Linked DNA regions of Homo sapiens. The protein of the gene in region 3 interacts with the protein of the main gene of each other region in a biochemical or structural test. Each region holds a gene or a part of one and is shown on either strand. Other genes may lie near its edges.

Region 1 (4,555 bases), on a different chromosome or scaffold from region 3:
AATATTTTACCTCTATATTCTCAAATACATTTACTTACATTAGATGCTAAAAAGGAAGAGAATAATTTCATATTCGATTATATACATTTCACATGAGATCAGAGATAGCTTAAATTAAATGTGTGTCTTTTCTACTGGGATGCCTTGTATGAATCATTGCATATATAATGCTATCTGATTTACTCTGTAAGGGAACAATTAAAGTATTATGATTAAATACAGAATTCATGAACTTTTGAAATAATTCATTTTTAAGTTTGCAAATATTTACGTAATCAGCTACAGAAGTCTCAATGCATTCATCATATTAGAACTTCTGTGAATTATAGATTTTACAAACTGTCCAAAGTTATAGTTCTCAAATGTAGTTTGTGTTAAAAAGGGGACTCCTTCAGCAGCTACACGAACAGAGAACAAAGCCAGGCAAGCATTGTGTTCACATGCATTTTTTACTACTACCCACATGTAACATGACATACGTATCATAGGAATACTTCCATTCCCTTGTCTGGTTAAATAGTCCTTGCTCAGTTAAGATAAAGGCCTAGATATAGCTTCTTTATACCACATAGAAAATAACCCAAACCTCATATTTTATCTCAAGTTCCAGGAAAGGTTAATTTAGAGCACAGAAACAGAAAAAAAAAAAAAGAAAATAAAGAAGAAGTAATGGAGTGTTTCCTGTTTCTAAAGTGGAACCAGTGTAGGCCACTTACGAAAAACCTGTATTTAGAATTTAGGAAAAATACTCACATAAGCTAGCATCCTTGGGATTTTTTCCCAATAATTGGCCTCAAATCTTTATAATCAAAGTTAGAAATTCTACTCAGTGGAAAAGGATGGAGGGGGTAGAGAATGGTAGAAGGAGTGACTCATTAATCTCACGCTAGAGACAGAATTATTTCATTTCTTATTCTTCACCCAAATGGTTATCAGGATGAAAGATAAATCTTTCACCTTGGGGTTAGGTGGTCATCAGATTTCTAGGGAAGTCTGGCTCACACTTTTATCTTGTCACTTTTCCGTTTTTTTGCTGTTGATAACAATATAACCATCTGGAACCATTGAGAAGGACAGTTTATTCATGAACCATAGTAATTCCTGTTTGATTTTGCTACAGAAATCAAGGATAGGACAATAATTCAGGTACCATATTCACATTATGCACTACTCTTAGAAGTTGCACCCTCTTCTATTTTCAAACTACTTGCAGAGGTTGCACCCTCTTCTATTTTCAAGCTTGTAAATGTTGTCAAGTCAGAATCACTAGTCAGGATTATGCAATATGCATAATACGGCAGCATAAATCATATAATATTATCTAGTCCCAAATATGTATTGAGTCTCCTATGTGTCAAGGAGTGCTGAGTAAAACAGCCATGTGCTAGCAATTTGAAACTACCCAATTGTGACCATCTTATGGTCTTATAAAATGTATCCACGTTATCATAAAATTTTTGATTCCATAGAGAAAAAGGAATCTCTTCCCTAAGGCATTTCTCCCTTTATATCACAGAAAAATTTCCAGATACGTATCTACACTTACCTTATTGTCCTTCTCCTTTGCTGTCATCCTGAGTCACAGCTATTGCTTTTAGAACCTAGGTGGAAGCTGTGTTGCTTATTAGGCAGTTGCAGTCTATGCTGTTTTCCACTGGAATTTCTTGGCACCCTTCATCATCTTCTCACTCCAGTGCTAATTCCTTATGTGTGTTCAACTCTCCAAAGTTCTAGAAAGGCAGTAAAGCATGATAAAAATACGCCGTACTATCCTAATATTGACACAATATAAAAACACAAATAAATCGCCAGACCACTGCAGCAGTTTACAGTCTATGCACCAGTCCCTTATATTTCCAAATTCATAGAATACAATAGCAGTTACAGTCAAGACTCATGTTATTTTCAGCTATAACCAAAGCATAATAGCAGAAGTGCTTTGGTTTTCTCAGGAAAGAGAATAGACAGAGAAAAATGAGGAAATTCTTCCTGTACCTTTTGAGGTGAGATATTCTTATAAGAGGACTTATAATGTGTACTTTGGATCAAATAACCAAAGAGGAAGGCAAAAGTGCAATTTAAATGTTTAGAAATGTAGTGGGATTGTTAGATACTGCTGAAGTTAATAAGTTACCCTAAGTTCACGTCTTGATTTCTCTTAAAAAAAATCATGGAAACATCTATGACTTAAGTTTGAAGAGTTTCCTTTTTTATTCCCCCTGAAAACCTTTATCAAAGTACTACTCAGCAGGAACTTTTGAAAAACAGTGCCAAGATGATATATTGTTTCACCTTCAAAAAACTTTTATACCTGTAAATTTTAAAGCTAAATTATGTGCATCACAAGTATAGAAAAAATATTTCCCATTTGTAATTTCCTATTTTATTATATAATACATTCAATTAGTTCTCAATTAACACTTATCTATGGTACCTGTTTCAATGGACCATGGCTTATAATTTTAGTGTGTAAGAATTCCAGTGGCAACTCCTCTGAATAGATGTATTTATTGTGTGTCATATGTGCTAGCCATTTGTTTTCTCCTAGGAAACATATGTGGTTAGCTCTGAAAGAATAGCTTAGCCTCATCATTTATACCTGTGTGGTTGCAAGCAACAAGGCTTTCTTGCAGTATAATTGTCTCAGGGATTAAGTCTAGTGCTTTATTCTCCCATTTTCCTGCCCCTCAGGAGGATATTCCTTCCTTTTTATTTTTATTTTTTTTAGGGGCTTGAAGTCTTCCTATTTTCCCATACACCTCTCCCACTTGGAAAACATGCCAGGATTTAATAAAACAAATTACACATTCACTAAGACACATTCATACTGGCTTTTTGAAGTATTACATCAGTGCATTCTGAGAGATATTCTGATGGTATTATAGATACAGATATAGATAGCTATTTTAAGAGAAAGGAATTTCAGGCCATATTCAAGAATGCTTTGGTGTGAATCAAATGCTGCTGAATACAGAGATGAAGAAGCTAGGTCAGAATATGGTCAGAATAGGTCAGAATATATGGTCCTCACCATGGCAGGCTTTTCTTTCCTCCATTACTCATCAGTTCTCTTCCTATTTCTGTTTCTATTGCCAAGTTCCCCTCTTCTGCCTATGTTTTTTAACTTCATAGGGAGCTATGGTGACACACAGGAATGACTATGTTGGCCTTATGAACAATTAAAGGGTGTGTTATTAACATTATTAAATAGATTATACTATTGTCTGTATTGTGCATTTCTCTTACAACTCATTCATCCTTCTCATCCATATAATAATCTGCAGCTCATATGTAGTTTATCACTTCTTGTAGTGGGATTAAAAGAAGTATGTAATTACACTTTTTTGTTTCTAAATCAGAGATGGTTTCAAGGTCACTATGATCTTTTTATTCTTCTTGGTTTCTTGAATTTTATCTCTTATATACTGCCTCATGAGTTCTTGAGAAATCTTCAGATAGAAGGTAATAATAATAGCCAACACTTATTGACTGCTTCATATCTGCCAGTCACTATTTTAAGTGCTTTCCATGCATTAACTTATTTATACCCATATCATTCCTGTGAAGTTGGTACAATCATTATCTTTGATTTATAAATGAGAAAACTAAAGCACATAGAGGTTAAGTTGCCTAAAGTTAATAACGTATTTTCCCAGATGTGCATATTAGTACGGAAGGTAAATGCTACAGTTATCTAGATTCTGTACATGAAAAGCAGAAAAAGTGTGAGATTGTGGATCTGCTTTTATAAGACAAATTCTTTCAAATGAAGTGAGCACAAGTTATCATAAGTAAATGATCACAAATGTGAATGCAGGAGGACAGATACTGTAAAAGTGCTGCCCAGGGGAACAAAGAAGCAGAGGGCAAATCATATCAAGGAAAACTAACTCCAGTGTATCTCCTCCCAAAGTTGAGAGTTAAGCGTGGCACAAATGCTTCTGAGTGTATTTTTTTCTTCCTTTGGGATTTCCAATCTGTCAGAAAGAGAACCTGCTGTGCTCTCTGCCTTTCCCTGGGGTGGCCCTTCAAGCTCGGGTCCCTTTTCCTGGGAAGATTAATTCATTCAGTTCCTACCACTCTAACCTCTACAGCCTCTTGGCGTCAGATTTTATGGTATATCAGCTCCTTAAACACCTTGTTGTACTTGATAATCCATGACCAAAAGCCACAATTTTTGAACCAACCAAGAGTTTTGAGTTAGTTCACCTCATATGAGAGGCATGGTGGAATAGCAACGTGGAGGTAGGGAAGATAAGCTCATGGTGGAGTGGAGTGACATTTAGGATCAACAGGGTCCCATCTGCCAGTTACTATAATTCAGAGTATTTTAATGCATGCCCCACATAATAATGAAATGAGACTGTTGTGATTAACTGATGCAAGATAAAATGTAAGGATACTGATTATAATCAGCAAAGAAATGAGTAGGAAGCAGAAAACCAAAAATTGGCCTTCTAAGAGTCATTTTAATTACAATTATTTGTGGTGAACTATGTATTACCTATGCCTCATTGCCATCTATTCTGTCTCTTATTTACACCACTGCGTCACA
Region 2 (4,555 bases), on a different chromosome or scaffold from region 3:
GGACTCAGTTCTGAGTAGACCCCCTCGGCCTGCCCTGCCTGATGAGGTGTTAGAACCTGTTCAGCTGCCACTCAGCTGCTGCACCCAGGTGGTCGCCTGTGGCTGATGCCCGGGACAGTGGCTGCCTCCCTCCTGGGCGACGTGGTGTGGCGAGCGCCTGCGTCAGGCCCACTTCTGGCTGCGTGGAGTTGGCGTTTCTGGCATTTCGGGCAGAGTGACGCGACCTCCTGGGCCCTTGGTCCTCTCCTGTGAACTGGGTGAATGGGACAGAGTGTGATGCCAGTGCTGCTCGGCTTGAGAACCCATTTTTGGGGTGACTTGGGGAGGAGTGGAGTGGGACTGTGGGGTGCCCCGGGCTGGACGTGCTTCTGGCTGTCCTCCATGGCTGGGTGCATTGGGTGAGGAGGTGCCGGGAGGGGAACAGGCAGGAGGCGGCAATGGTGGGGACGGGGTAGGGGGAACCGTGGGGCTGAAGGCAGGCAGCTGCCCCCACAGGTCCCACCCAAGGTGTGCATGATGTGGGGCAGGAGGGCGCTGGTGTAAGCCCCGCATGTCCACGGCAGCCCATGTCGGGGGAAGTGGAAGGGACTCAATTTAAAACGACCTCAACCATTCCAACAAAGCGCTTTACTGAGGGCACCCACTCCACAGTCCCAAGGAGGCAGACACAGGCCTGAACTGTCCACCCTCTATGTCCCGAGTGGTGACTCCACTCCCCACTGCTCAGAGATCACACCCCTTCTGGAGAGCTTGCATCCCTTCTGGAGAGCTTGCACGGATGAGTGACTGTCTTCACCCTGGGCTTCCCCAAGTCCGGCGACAGTGGCTGCCCCAGTGCTGCAGCTGGCTCTGGTGACGGTGGCACGGCATGGCCCCGAGCTTGGGAGAACAGCGGCCTGCACACACGGTCACGCATCACCGCTCGGCGGAGGATGGGAATATCTCATGGAGATCTGGATCTCAACCCCACATGGGACAAGGGCCCAGGGACCTGGCTTTCCTACACACCAGCTGGAAGGCTGACTCCCCATCTCACGTGAATGCTTCCTTGGTTTTGGGGGGCACTAGGAAGGTCCCCAGGGCCACGGGTCACTGCCCAGATTGTGGCATCCTCATAAGACTTGCGACTCTTCCCAGAGGAAAGAAAACCCCTCTCAGATGCTCCAAGGACTCCCCTAGTCTAGCTGCTTCCTGTGCCAGGCCCGGACCCCAGGGCGAACAGGCCTGTTCATCCACAACCTCACAGCTGAGGGCCCTCCTGCAGTTCTTCACAGGAGAGAGAAAGGAAGGCGCACCTGCCCAGCCCGGCCAAGAAAACAAAACTCTCTCCCATGGGTGCGGGAGGCTGCTGCCTGCCTGCTGAGCAGCTCAGGGCAGATGTCGCTATGGGTGCCAGCATTCTCGAAGTCTCCCTTGCCCAACAGAAATCTATCCAAGGACCAAGGGCTGGAATCGGCAAAGCCATCCGTGAAGACCTCCTCATTCTGTGGAGAAACGGCCCTTGCTTTCAGGAAGACTGTCACAACCATGCCTTGGGAAACGTCACCTCCAGATCAACCTTGGGAAAATCTTTTATTAGGGAGGACAGCCTGCAAAATCCTCCCTTTAAGAGCCCAGGCCAGCCTAGAACCTCCAGACCACAGAAGGGGAGTCCTGGGGACAGGACTGGTGTAGACAGGCATCTCCACCGCCCCGGTTAGCCAGTACCTAACACCCACTCCTGCCCTCGGCCGATGTGGCAAACCGGGGAGGCTTTTGTGTGGGGCCGGGGCTGCGGCCATGGCAGCCACCCTCCAGCTCCCGGGGGCTGGGGAAGACGCTGGGGTCCCCGTGGAGGCTGGAGCGGCGTTCAGGTCCTGCGGTCACTCGGCGTGCTCCTGCACCTCTTCCCCACGCAGGGCCTGCAGCCGGCTGCCCACAGTCTGCTGCACGGCCTCCAGCCCCTCTGCATCCAGCTCCCGCAGCAGCAGCAGGATGGCAGTCAGGACGTTCTGAGGGCAGAGGGGTGCGGACTAAGCCCACCCGGCACGGCGAGGCTGCTTCCCTCCACAAGGGCTGGGGCCTGGCCAGCGGTGCCCCACCACGGAGCGACTGGTCCCGGGGGTGTGGGCCGTCCAAGTGACTGACCGGCACACTCGGAGAATCTGAGCAGAGGAGCCCCGCCTGTGGACGCGTGTGTGGCACCTCTTCCACGTGACTCCTGTTGCCCTCAGCCCAGCAGGGCCCGGGCCCACATTCCACAGACCAGGACAGCAGGAGAGGCTGAGGGGCCAGGACGGCTCCGTGCGGGGCACGTGTTACACGTGTGTGCGCATTCACAGACCCGCACACGCAGCTCCCCCTGGGGCACAGCTCTTCAAGGCCCTGTGAGGCTCCATGCTCCCTCCCCACGGGGCCCTGTGAGGCTCCATGCTCCCTCCCCACGGTTTCTGTGCAGTGGGTGCAGTGGGCAGAGGCAGCCGCGGCCCCTAGCGGCCCGCCACTCACCCTGCCCCTGTGGCTGCTCGAGGCATCCCTGGCTGAGAGGGAAGGAAACTGGCCCCGGGAAGGCGGCTTCAGGCCACGTTCATCCTGGGCGCCGCTGCTGAGAGGGAGACAAAGGCGTGTGAGGGTCAGGGGGCTCGTGGCACCGGGGGGGCCTCTGCAAACCCTGTCTGCGGGTCGCATCCAAGCAAAGGAGGGGCTCATACAAATCCCACCTGGCACACGGGGGCAAGAGAAGGGAGGCAACTCCTGGGAGGTCAGGGGCTACAGATGGCAGCTCCTGGAGAGCCCGGCACTTACTTCACCTGTGGGGCGCCCTCCCGGCACCCTGGGGCTCCCCAGCTGTAACACCTTCCACCCAGGGCTTCAGGGGCAGGGTGGGGGGCACCCGAACACACAAATGCCGGGGGAGAGCTCCTGACCATGGGGTCAGGCCCTGTGCCGGATGGCAGATGCCTAACAGAGATCACATCCCGATGCCCCCACCACAGGCACCAGCAGCGGGTGTGATCTGCCAAGCAGGAGAGAAGTGCCCAGCTTCTGTCAAATGCGTTCGTGACCCGCTGCCAACTGCCCTGGGAGGCGCCGGCGTCTCACTGCAGAGTCAGCCCTGTGGCCCCTCCACGGCCCCCAGGCCCAAGGCCATACGGGCACTGATGGCCGTGCCCACAAACCATTCCAGTCACTGTGGCCCTAGGCCACCCCCCCCACCAGGGGCTCCCTGCACCTCACGAGCTCTGGTGCTGTGAGCCTTCTCTGTGCCAGGGCACGGGGCCTGGCTCACCCCCTCTCCTGCTCCCTGGCACATCCGCTGTTGGGCAAAACATGGACCTGCCACTGAAATCACTACCTGGGCACTGAGTCACTCCCAGAGAATATGGATGAGAACAGACACTCCCCCCGGATAATCCCTGTCCCTCACTTCCCAGAGACGCAGCTCACGGGAAGCCCCATTCACTCCCCGTGGGAGGACCCTGGGGGACAGGGATGGGCTGCGGAGTCCCCGCTGCCCTCCAGCCTCACGTTGCCTCCTCCTCGCTGTCCAGCGGGTCCCGGCCAGTCTCAGCAGCGGAGCTGAGGGAGCTCAGTGTGCAGCATAGCTTGGGGCCGCCGTGGCCTGTGCCCTCTCTCTCTGGGGCCGCAGTGATCTCCTCTCCCTCACTCAGTGCACGGGACAGCTCCTCCTCCGTCACAGCTTTGGGATGAAAGACAGAAGACAGCATGAGTGGCCTCACCCACGTGCAGGCCACATGCACTGCAGCTCCCGTCCTCACTGTGGCTTCAGGCACAGTCTGCTTGTGAAATGCATGCACGTGTATCCACCTCCAGGGACAACTCCCAGAGTAGCAGCCGGTTCCTCACTGTCCCATCCCCAGCCTGGCACAGGCTGACACACAACAGATGGTGGAGGGCTGCTCAGGAATCTCAACACCAGCCTTGGCCAGAAGCAAATACTCCTCAAAACCTCAACTAAGACACAATAGAAAAAGGAACAGACCATATTGAATTTATTCCATTTCTCTCATATATCAATTTCCCTGAAGTTTATATTATTAATATCAATAAAATTGTCTGGGAGAAAATAGTGGTGTCTGTATACCTGACAAGGATGAGACACTAGTGTGCTGAGAATGCCAAGGATGAACAAACAGCATGAAACCACAGCCTGGAAAACTGTGTCGGTGCTGGCGCTGGCTAGAGGAGGCACGAGTGCCTCCAATAGGTGGAGCGCAGCAGCAGGCACTGCGGTGCTGGGACGGCCCCTCCCCACGGCAGGGGCGCGATGGCACCGCCACCCTAGGTTCACAGTGGCCCGTGGAGCCTGCCCAGTCCCTGTGGACCAGTGCGATGCTGCTTGCCAGATACTGACGCCCCCGCTCGCCATGGCGCATGGCGATGGTCAGAGCAGGGCTGCTACTCACAGAAGCAAAAGAAGGAACCCTTTTGCTTTGCTACCAGGTCCTGCGGTCGTTGGGGGATACCCAAACTGTCAGTCCCAGGAGGGACCCTACGCTGCGCTGCTGCATTCGGGTGGCGGGATCAAGAGGAGACACAGAAGCCAGGGGAACAG
Region 3 (4,555 bases):
ACTATAATTTACTTACTTTTCAAATAATCAGGAAAGTAATGAACACACATATCCATAATATGTAGAATTAACAAAAGCTAACTTTTGGCCATAGTGGTTTGGATTATTTAAGTAAAACCATATTACAGATGCAGAGTACCCTTTCTCAATCTTACTGCCTTCCTTTCTTCCCCAGGGGCATTTTCAGTACTCTGAAATTGATGTGTATTCTTCCCGCTCATGGTTTTTGCTTTTATTTTTATTACGTACATGCACATCTAAATAAAATTGTTTAGAAACACTACATAAATGGTGTAATATTCTACTTATTCAACTCATCATGTTTGTGGGGCTTATCCATATTGACAGTCGGAATTTAATTCATTCATTTTAGCCGATGTATACAATTTCATTACATAAACGCAGCCCAATATTCCACCTAAAATGAATATGAAGAGAAGGTATGTGTCTCTTTCTTAAGAGTCTATAATGGCCAGGCATAGTGGCTCATGCCTGTAATCCCAGCACTTTGGGAGACCGAGGCAGACAGATCACCTGAGGTCAGGAGTTTGAGACCAGCCTGGCCAACATGGTGAAACCCTGTCTCTACTAAAAATACAAAAATTAGCTGGGTGTGGTGGCACATGCCTGTAATGCCAGCTACTTGGGAGGGTGAGACAGGAGAATTGCTTGAACCTGGGAGGCAGAGGTTGCAGTGAGCCGAGATCATGTCACTGTACTCCAGCCTGGGCGACAGAGCAAGACTCCATCTCAAAAAAAAAAAAAAAAAAAAAAAAAAAAAAAGAAGAATCTATAAACTTGGGCCGCTAATGCTAATACTCAATGTGAGAACATGGTAGCCTCTGCCAGGTTGCCACTGGCCACAGCTGTTATACTCCTCTCCTTGTGGAAGAATTTATTAGGAATACTATCAAATCGCTTACACATTTTATTAGCTCTATTTGACTTCTGACTCTGGATAGTATCTAGCTATGGAAAAAAAAGCATTAACTTTATCAACGGCTGAAGATATTGACGCTTACCAAACCTGCACCATAACAGTATCAGGAGAGTTAAATAGCTGAGGCTGTCTTTTCAGGACTTATATAATTTCCAGTGAAATAAAACAGAAATGTGTTTTTGACAATCTTCTTTTTAACTTGTATCTTAATGACTTGATGTCACTTTCGGGTGAGCGAGATAAAATTTTGCTTACCCCTTCCCTTCTTTACTCTCCCTTTTCCCCAACACAGAAAATAAAAGTGTGTAAGTACCATATGTAGATGACATGGCTTTACCATCTCCTAGATGTGGCCTAAAAGATAGCTGTCTGGACAACTATCTCTAAGACAGGTAGGCTGGGTGCGGTGGGTCACACCTGTAATCCTAACACTTTGGGAAGCTGAGGTGGGAGGACAGCTTCAGGCCAGGAGTTTGAGATCAACATGGCGAAATGCCATCTCTGCCAAAAAAATACAAAAATGAGTCAGGCATGGTAGCTCACGCCAGTAGTACCAGTTACTCAGGAGGCTGAAGTGGGAGGACTGCTTGAGCCCAGGAGGCGGAGGTTGCAGTGAGTTGAGATCATGCCACTGCACTCCAACCTGGGTGACAGAGCAAGGCCCTGTCTCCATAGAAAAAAAAAAATCCCAACAAAAAACTCCCCAAATCAAAAAGAACAGCTATATATGGGCTCTACTGACTTCCAATAAGAAGGAGTGCAAAACGGTTATTCTGAATCAATGAATATGAAATCTATATCTAGTCATTTCATTTAACTCTCATGATTAACAATACAAAACAGCAAGTCATCCACATAATTCAATATCCATTTTATAACCAGTTTCTTTAGTAGCTATAGTAGCAAGTTACAATATTTTATGGGCTGTACTCAATTTTTTTTTAAGCTACACCTGCTGTAATGGTATGTACTAAGAGTTTTAGAAAAGATTGCCAGGGTAGGCATCTTCAATTGCTTTACATTTTTTCTAGGGTGAAGGAATTACTGTCAGGCTTTATGATACAGAACTCTGGGGTTCTCTTTCCCTTTCCATTTGTGTACTAGAGAAAATCTGATATTGCTTCCTGAGTGGTGTATTAACCTAGCCTGATTCTTGGTCCTTTGCAGGGGAAATGGCCTTCTGTGTAGGCTTATATCCTTTTGAAGCCACTCAGTTGTCAAAAGAGGGTGTCAATTCTACCTTGTGAATAAGTTGATTGTTACAGCTCTCCACTTAAGGGGCAAGGCAAACTAAAAGCTCTCCAGATACTTGTTGAGCAAAACTGAACCCCAAGCACATTGTTGCTGATTACTTATGAAAAGCTCTATTGAAACAATACTTAAGGAGAACCGCCTGGAGGTGGAATAGTCTGAATATGAATAGAATTGGTTTGATACACTCTACAGAATTACTGAAATGGAATCATCCTCTGGCTTCGTGCCATTAACTTACAGCATGACATATGAGAAACAGCCTCATGAAATCTAAATATTGTAAAAATTACTGAGGATACTTTTCATTCCATTATAGCACTGTTTTGTAAAATGAAGTCCAAGGTCTCAATAAAATAAGAAATCCACAAGTACCAGAAAATGTTTACCTTTTATATTTTCATTTTGATAAAATTTTTTAATATTTAGAAAAATACAACATGTTTTACAGTAATAATTCACAACTAACAGAAATTTTCTACCACTAAGACTTGAGTTTTTTTTTTTTTACTGGGGTTTATAGACCCTTGGATTCTCATGCCTGAAAAAAATACTTTTTGCTCCTTAAAGGGATCCACATGTTATTCAAGTTTGAGGAACACTGTATGATAGTGCCCTCTTTTTAAAGATCATGGGAAAATTGTTCCTTTGGTTTCAATACCAAAAATAGCTGTCCTCTGAGCAACTAAAATGTTTTGTCTCATGAATACTGTGACTCATGTAATTAATTAGGTTTTCTGCTTTGTGAGAAAGACCAGCACCAAATTTGTTTCCTGTTTTTAGAAAATGTGGAAACCTTTTGAACATGAAGTTTGTATTCTTCATTCCTGGCTTCATGTTATACTGCTTGTGCTCATTTGTCCAATTTGTTGACTTCCCCAAACTTTTTTTTAAAACTTAATTTTCTCTCTTACTATATACATATATATATTTCAATGCAATCTTAGACTTTTTTGTATGAATATGCAAACACATTTTGTATGGAATACAAATACATTTTATAAACATTTTTATTGCTAAAATTAAGCATCAACATTTAAAACCCTCAATTTTAGTCTATGAATTTAACATTTAAAGTAATAAAATTAATGTTTGGGCAAATAATCTAGAAATAAATTCTTGTTCAAAATTTTACATATTGCTTTTTGTGTCTACAAGTTTTGCCAGGTGCAGTGGCTCACACCTGTAATCCCAGCACTTTGGGAGGCCAAGGAGGGGTGAATCATTTGAGGTCAGGAGTTCGAGGCCAGCCTGGCCAACATGGTGAGACCCCATCTCTACTAAAAATACAAAAATTGGCCAGGCATGGTAGCACCTGTAGGCCAAGCTACTCAGGAGGCTGAGGCAGGAGAATCACTTGAACCCAGGAGGCAGAGGTTGCAGTGAGCTGAGACTGTGCCACTGCACTCTAGCCTGGACAACAGAGCAAGACTCCATCTCACACACACAAAAAACGTTTAATACCACATCCTTGATAAGAACTATTCTAGGGCCAGGCGCAGTGGCTCACATTTGTAATCCCAGCACTTTGGGAGGCTGAGGTGTGTGGATCATCTGAGATCAGGAGTTCAAGACCAGCCTGGCCAACATGGTGAAACCCTGTCTCTACTAAAAATACAAAAAGTAGTCAGGTGTGGTGGCGCACGCCTATAATCCCAGCTATTTGGGAGGCTGAGGCAGGAGAATCACTTGAGCCCAGGGGGTGGAGGTTGCAATGAGCCGAGATCACGACACTGCACTCCAGCCTGGGCAATAAGACTCTGTCTCAAAAAAAACAAAAAAAAATGAATTATTCTAAGTTATAATCTTCTTTATTTTTATTTATTTACTTTTTTGAGACAGGGTCTGGCTTTGTCACCAAGGCTGAGTGCAGTAGCACAATCACAGCTCACTGCAGCTTCAAACTCCTGGGCTCAAGCAATCCTCCCACCTCAGTCCCCTGAGTAGCTGGGACTAGAGGTGCCCACCACTATGCCTAGCTAATTAAAAATTTTTTTGTGTGTAGAGATAGGGTTTCACTATGTTGTCCAGGCTGGTCTCAAACTCCTGGCCTCAAGCCATCCTCCCACTTAAGCCTCCCAAGTAGCTGGAATCACAAGCATAAACCACGGCACCCGGCTAGGATTATTCTAATTGCTAGAGCTGTCCAAAAATCTATCTAGTAAGATTTTTAAAAACCTCATTCAAAGGTTACTTGTAAATTAAATTAAAAATATGGACTTAAAGGACTTAAGTCAGTAAAAGTATATGACAGATCAGTAAAAGTACATGACAAAGTTAATTTTATTATTGCTTAAAAGTTATATAGTTCCCAAGTAGATTTCACAAAATGGATGTGATGTAAGCTGATTCATATACATGTAT
Region 4 (4,555 bases), on a different chromosome or scaffold from region 3:
GCTGAGAAAATGATACCTTGACACCCTCACACTCTCTCAGGGGAGCGACAGCATTATCTCCTCCTTACATGAGTATGCATTTTGGCCTAAAGTGTTCCTTGGGCAATCACACAGAAATAGTCACATGTGGGATGGAACATGCACAAGGATGTTCACTGAAGCACTGACTGTATGTGAGACAAGCTGCAAACACCCTGAATGACTCCACCCTGGCTTCCAGTGGGGCAGGCTCCCAATGGCAGCCAGGGAGATGAGGCAGGGGCTAGAAAGAGTAGGGAAGAGGGGCTGGGCCAGTGAGGAATGGGGAGCATGACAACTGTCAGGTGAAGAAGGCAAGAGGCAGGACACCATGAACAGATGGGCCCCCTCTCTCCCTCTTTCCTCCTGTGATATAAATCTATGTCAAAAGATCTATCAAGATGTGCATCAAACTCTTACCAGTGGTGACTCTTGGAGTGTGGGATTTGGGGAAATGGAGCTGACATTAAAATTCTACTTTATATTTATAGACTTCTAGATTGTTCTATAATAAGCATGAATTACTACTTTTAACATTTAAAAAACCCACAAAACTAAAAGTTTAAAAAAGCTGGGTCAGCTGAAATAGAGGCCTCACCAGCGGCGGTATTTGAGCCCTGCTCCTTCGGGTGGGCTGAGACCTTCAGGTCATGGCTTTTGCTGACCGCTGGCTGCCCGTCATGCTCCACCTGGCAGGTGAGCTTCACATCATCCCTGTGGGCAGATACATTCACCAGGAGCCAGCTCATCCAGTTGTAGGTACCATCCTTGTTCTCTGTAACGGTTGAGGCCGTTTCTGTCCGGGACACGTTTCCATTCTCCAACCAGGTCAGCTGTAGTCTCTGGGGGTAGAACTTCCTCACCTGGCAGGTGACATTCACCTGGTTCTCTGCCCTCACGGGCTGTTGAGTAACCTCCAAGGTGGGTGGAACTGAAACAGCACAGGGCAGAAGCTCTGACCTTGTGGCACAGACAGATCACAGGGAGGGCTCCATAACGTAGCTCCCCCACCACGGTGAGGTCATCACCAGGACAGAGCTAGGCAGGCATCAGGTGCTCAGACATTGAGGGTGCTCTTTGCATATGAATGAAATTACTAAGCACAACGCCCAGCACACAGTAGGTGCTCAAGGACTGGTAGCTCCTACTAGGCTAAGAATGAGGGAAATCTATAAGCACCACCCCTGGCATGCAGTTGGAATGTTGTAACTGTAGCAAAATAAAGAAAATCACCAAGCACATAGAGGCTTAGTTCATAGTAGGTACTCATTAACTGTGTTTGCTATCAGTGAAATAAATGAAACGGCTAGCACAGTCCTTGGCACCTGGTGGGTGGTGTGGTCACCCAGCCACTGCCATTAAAATGTTAGTAAGTGGCTGGCACATCTAGGGGCATGGGAGGTGGGCAGTTAGGAATTTAGGTTCCAGGCATTTCAAGCCCTGGAGCAAGAGTAGAGCTGGATGAGTGGAGGGTGGTGGGGGGTGGGCTTGGCGGTCAGGTGTGGGCTTGGGCTGGGTGAGGGTCTTCTACCTCGGATGGTCTCAGACAAGTTGGCAGTCCCACGAAGAGGGTCCCCCTGCAAGGTGACGTGGGCCACCTCGCAGATGACTTGAGAGTGAACGTCCTCGCGGGTCAGCACCACCTTGGCTGTGCTGTGGATGCTGTAGGACACGCTCTCTCCTACGGGGTCCACGTTGGTCTGGAAGTCTGAGAGCTCATTCCCATTTTTGAACCATTTCAGGGTGATGTCTCTGGGTGAGAAGCCGTGGGACTCGCAGGTGAAGCTCACTGTGTGCTGAGGTGTGGCCCTCGCCGCAGGGCCCGATACCACGGGGGCAGAGGGTTTGGCTACAAAAGGACCATCGATAATCAGGAGACATGACTCAGATGACAATCACTAACGATAAGTGTGTGACACGTTAAGAACCTTCTGAGACATTATTTTTTATCCTTCCAATAATGTGGAAGGATTAATGAGGGCGGTGTCCTTATTGTCATTTTACAGAGCAGGATGCAAAGGTTGGGAGAGGTGAGGACCCATGTGAGGTCAGACAGTGTAGGGGCAGGGCCCAGAGGGAAGTCCAGGCCTGAGTTCAAACTTCTCCACTCCACACAGGGTGACTTCCAGCAATTTGGGCACAGGATCAAAATTAACGATCCATCTCATCCTTGGTATTAACTGTTTCTACCCTGCCTCCCCTGGCAACAGTGCCAACCTCAGAGAGAGCGTTTATAGAGGTCAGTGCAGGGAGTAAGCAGCAACGTGGCATCACCATGAGAGCTGGAACCAGGCCGCTCAGCCCATGAGAGGGGCGGCCTGGCACACCCAGCTCCTTGTCTGTAAAATGGAACAGCAGCATTTCTCCTTTCTGGGATGCAGCGAGGATTAAATGAGGCAACAGAAGCAGTTTTGCTTTGGATAAACACAGAAGATGCTTCACAAAAATAAGCAAAAACAGATCTAACTTTAACCCAGACTTTATTCATATCCAAAGCTCTCTCTTCAGGTATTTATGAATTTACTTCATATTTTTCATTTTCTCCACAAATATTCCAGCAGGGTCTAATCTGTGCCAAGTGCTAAATTTGAAAGGAAGGGATACTTTTCTGAATCTGCGGTCTTCTTTGGTGTCAGTTTTAGATAGACACTAAAGATCACCAAGTGTGGAGAAAGCCAAAGTGGTTAATTATCAATTAATTACACAGACACAGGGCGCCCAAGCAGGCAGAAGCACTTCCTGGGTCCTGAAAGCACACACATGGCTGAATCAGAACGCGGGCTGTTTCTCCCTGCAGATGGGTCGTAAACGTGTCTCCAAATTGCTAATCATTACCCCATACCTCCTATCGCAGTCACCAGGAAGCACATATCACACATACTTGCATTTGTAAATATTAACTTCTCCCTCACACCCATCAAACATTTTGAGGGCACAGTAAGGAGGGTGTCACTTGAAGAAGTCAAGTCATTGAGGCCAGCGGCCTGGATGTCCCCACAGGGCTGAGGGGCTGCAATCAGTTCCCATTTATCCAGGGCTTCTCTGGAGCTGGACACTGGCTGCTCCCTCCATGCCCGTCAGCTCTTTAATCCTCACTCCATCTCTGTGAGGGGATCCTCGTGTGAGCCCCTTTTAGGACAAAGCTCAGAGAGGCCCAGGGCCAAAAGTGGATACAAACCCCACCCTGTTAAGAAGAGGGAGGATGAATGCAAGCACAGAGCCTGGTATGCAGCAGGTGCTTAATAAATGACCCCTGTGACTGTTATCAGGAGGTCTGGTCATTACTGCTTCCGAATCTACACATTTATCCTTCAGGCAGCAGAACAAAGCAGAGCAGAAACACCAAGAAAAGGCTCAAACCCTGCTCCCTGTGGCTCATGACAAACCCAAATGATACAAGGAGCAGAAACCACCAAGTGAGGATTCTCTCCCCTTTTCTAAACAATCCCCTCAGGAAACAAGTTTGGCGAATTGGCTTTCAAAACACAAGATCACAGGCGCCTCCCTCCAGAAGAGCCATTTACAGAAGCTGGAAGCATTTTAAAGGAGGAGGGAACAGACTCCTCCGTGACATCTTGGTGTGTCGAGGCAGGGAGGGTTCTGGGGCCGAATTGGAAGGATTTGCTGGGATTCCGGCGGTCATTTAGACAAAAACATTTTCAGGATGGAAGGTTTCCCCACACTGAGGCTGGATCTGAGCAGGGCTTTGTCTGGGGCCCCTACCTTGGCCCCCGAGGCCTGTATCATAAGAGGGGGTCTGGCCAGGCCACTGGGGCCTCCAAAGAGCTGTCCCGGGTGCACGTTGTTCAGAAGCATCCACACCCTGAAAAGCTGTTCTCCCATCTGGCACCCCAAGAGGACCATCTTTTCCAACTTGTCCTCCGTGACCTCTGGGTGTCTATCCCAGGGGTTTTCAGTCCTGACTCTGTATTAGAATCTTCTGGATTAATTAAAAACTTTAGATGCCTAGGCCCATGCCAGGCCAATTGAAGAGGCATTTCTGTGGTGGAGCCTGGGATTTATTTCAATGTTTCCCAGATGATCCTAAAGAGCAGCCAAGATTGAAAACTACCTGAGTACATCCTAAGGACCATTTATCCTTGAGGCCTGGAGGAGCACTAACCCATCTGAGGTTGCATGGCTTCAGCATCACACAGCTCACATCTGTTGAACATTGACTGCAGGCCAGGCGCCTGCTGCCCTAAGCACGCTACAGGATTTAACTCATTCGGTCCCAACTCCTGGTCTGTGAGGTTGGTGTTATCACTGACAAGTGAGGACACTGAGGCCCATGGTGGTGGAGTGCCTTGTCCCAGGTCACAGAGCCAGGAGGTGGCAGAGCTGGGATGTGGCCCAGGCAGTTGGACTCTGGCCACACTCTCCTAACCACACTTCTGCAGGAGCTCAGTGATAACCCGAACACCGCCACCATTCCGAGGCTCTGTACATCCTCTCCAATCCTCACAGAACCTGTGAGGGTTGGCAATCATCATCATCATTTCATAGACAGGGAAGCTGAGGACTCAAGGGAAGCCAG

The links.
Region 1: the proteins of NEK1 (region 3) and PTPRD form a complex in vitro, tested with the Homo sapiens proteins (one study listed by BioGRID and IntAct).
Region 2: of the proteins of NEK1 (region 3) and CFAP410, one has a biochemical effect on the other in vitro, tested with the Homo sapiens proteins (one study listed by BioGRID).
Region 4: the proteins of NEK1 (region 3) and SIRPA form a complex in vitro, tested with the Homo sapiens proteins (one large-scale study listed by BioGRID).

The regions. Positions count from the first base shown.
Region 1 is NC_000009.12:10,602,630-10,607,184, reverse strand, and holds part of PTPRD (receptor-type tyrosine-protein phosphatase delta isoform 1 precursor), read left to right. Parts: intron 1-4,555.
Region 2 is NC_000021.9:44,328,336-44,332,890, forward strand, and holds the end of CFAP410 (nuclear encoded mitochondrial protein C21orf2), read right to left. Parts: intron 3,680-4,555; coding exon 3,508-3,679; intron 2,585-3,507; coding exon 2,488-2,584; coding exon of another isoform or gene 2,128-2,487; intron 1,992-2,127; coding exon 1,863-1,991; 3' UTR 609-1,862; downstream 1-608. UniProt on the Homo sapiens protein: Plays a role in cilia formation and/or maintenance. Plays a role in the regulation of cell morphology and cytoskeletal organization. Involved in DNA damage repair.
Region 3 is NC_000004.12:169,395,614-169,400,168, forward strand, and holds part of NEK1 (serine/threonine-protein kinase Nek1), read right to left. Parts: intron 1-4,555. UniProt on the Homo sapiens protein: Phosphorylates serines and threonines, but also appears to possess tyrosine kinase activity. Involved in DNA damage checkpoint control and for proper DNA damage repair.
Region 4 is NC_000020.11:1,918,707-1,923,261, reverse strand, and holds part of SIRPA (tyrosine-protein phosphatase non-receptor type substrate 1 isoform 1 precursor), read right to left. Parts: intron 1,868-4,555; coding exon 1,550-1,867; intron 950-1,549; coding exon 617-949; intron 1-616. UniProt on the Homo sapiens protein: Immunoglobulin-like cell surface receptor for CD47. Acts as docking protein and induces translocation of PTPN6, PTPN11 and other binding partners from the cytosol to the plasma membrane.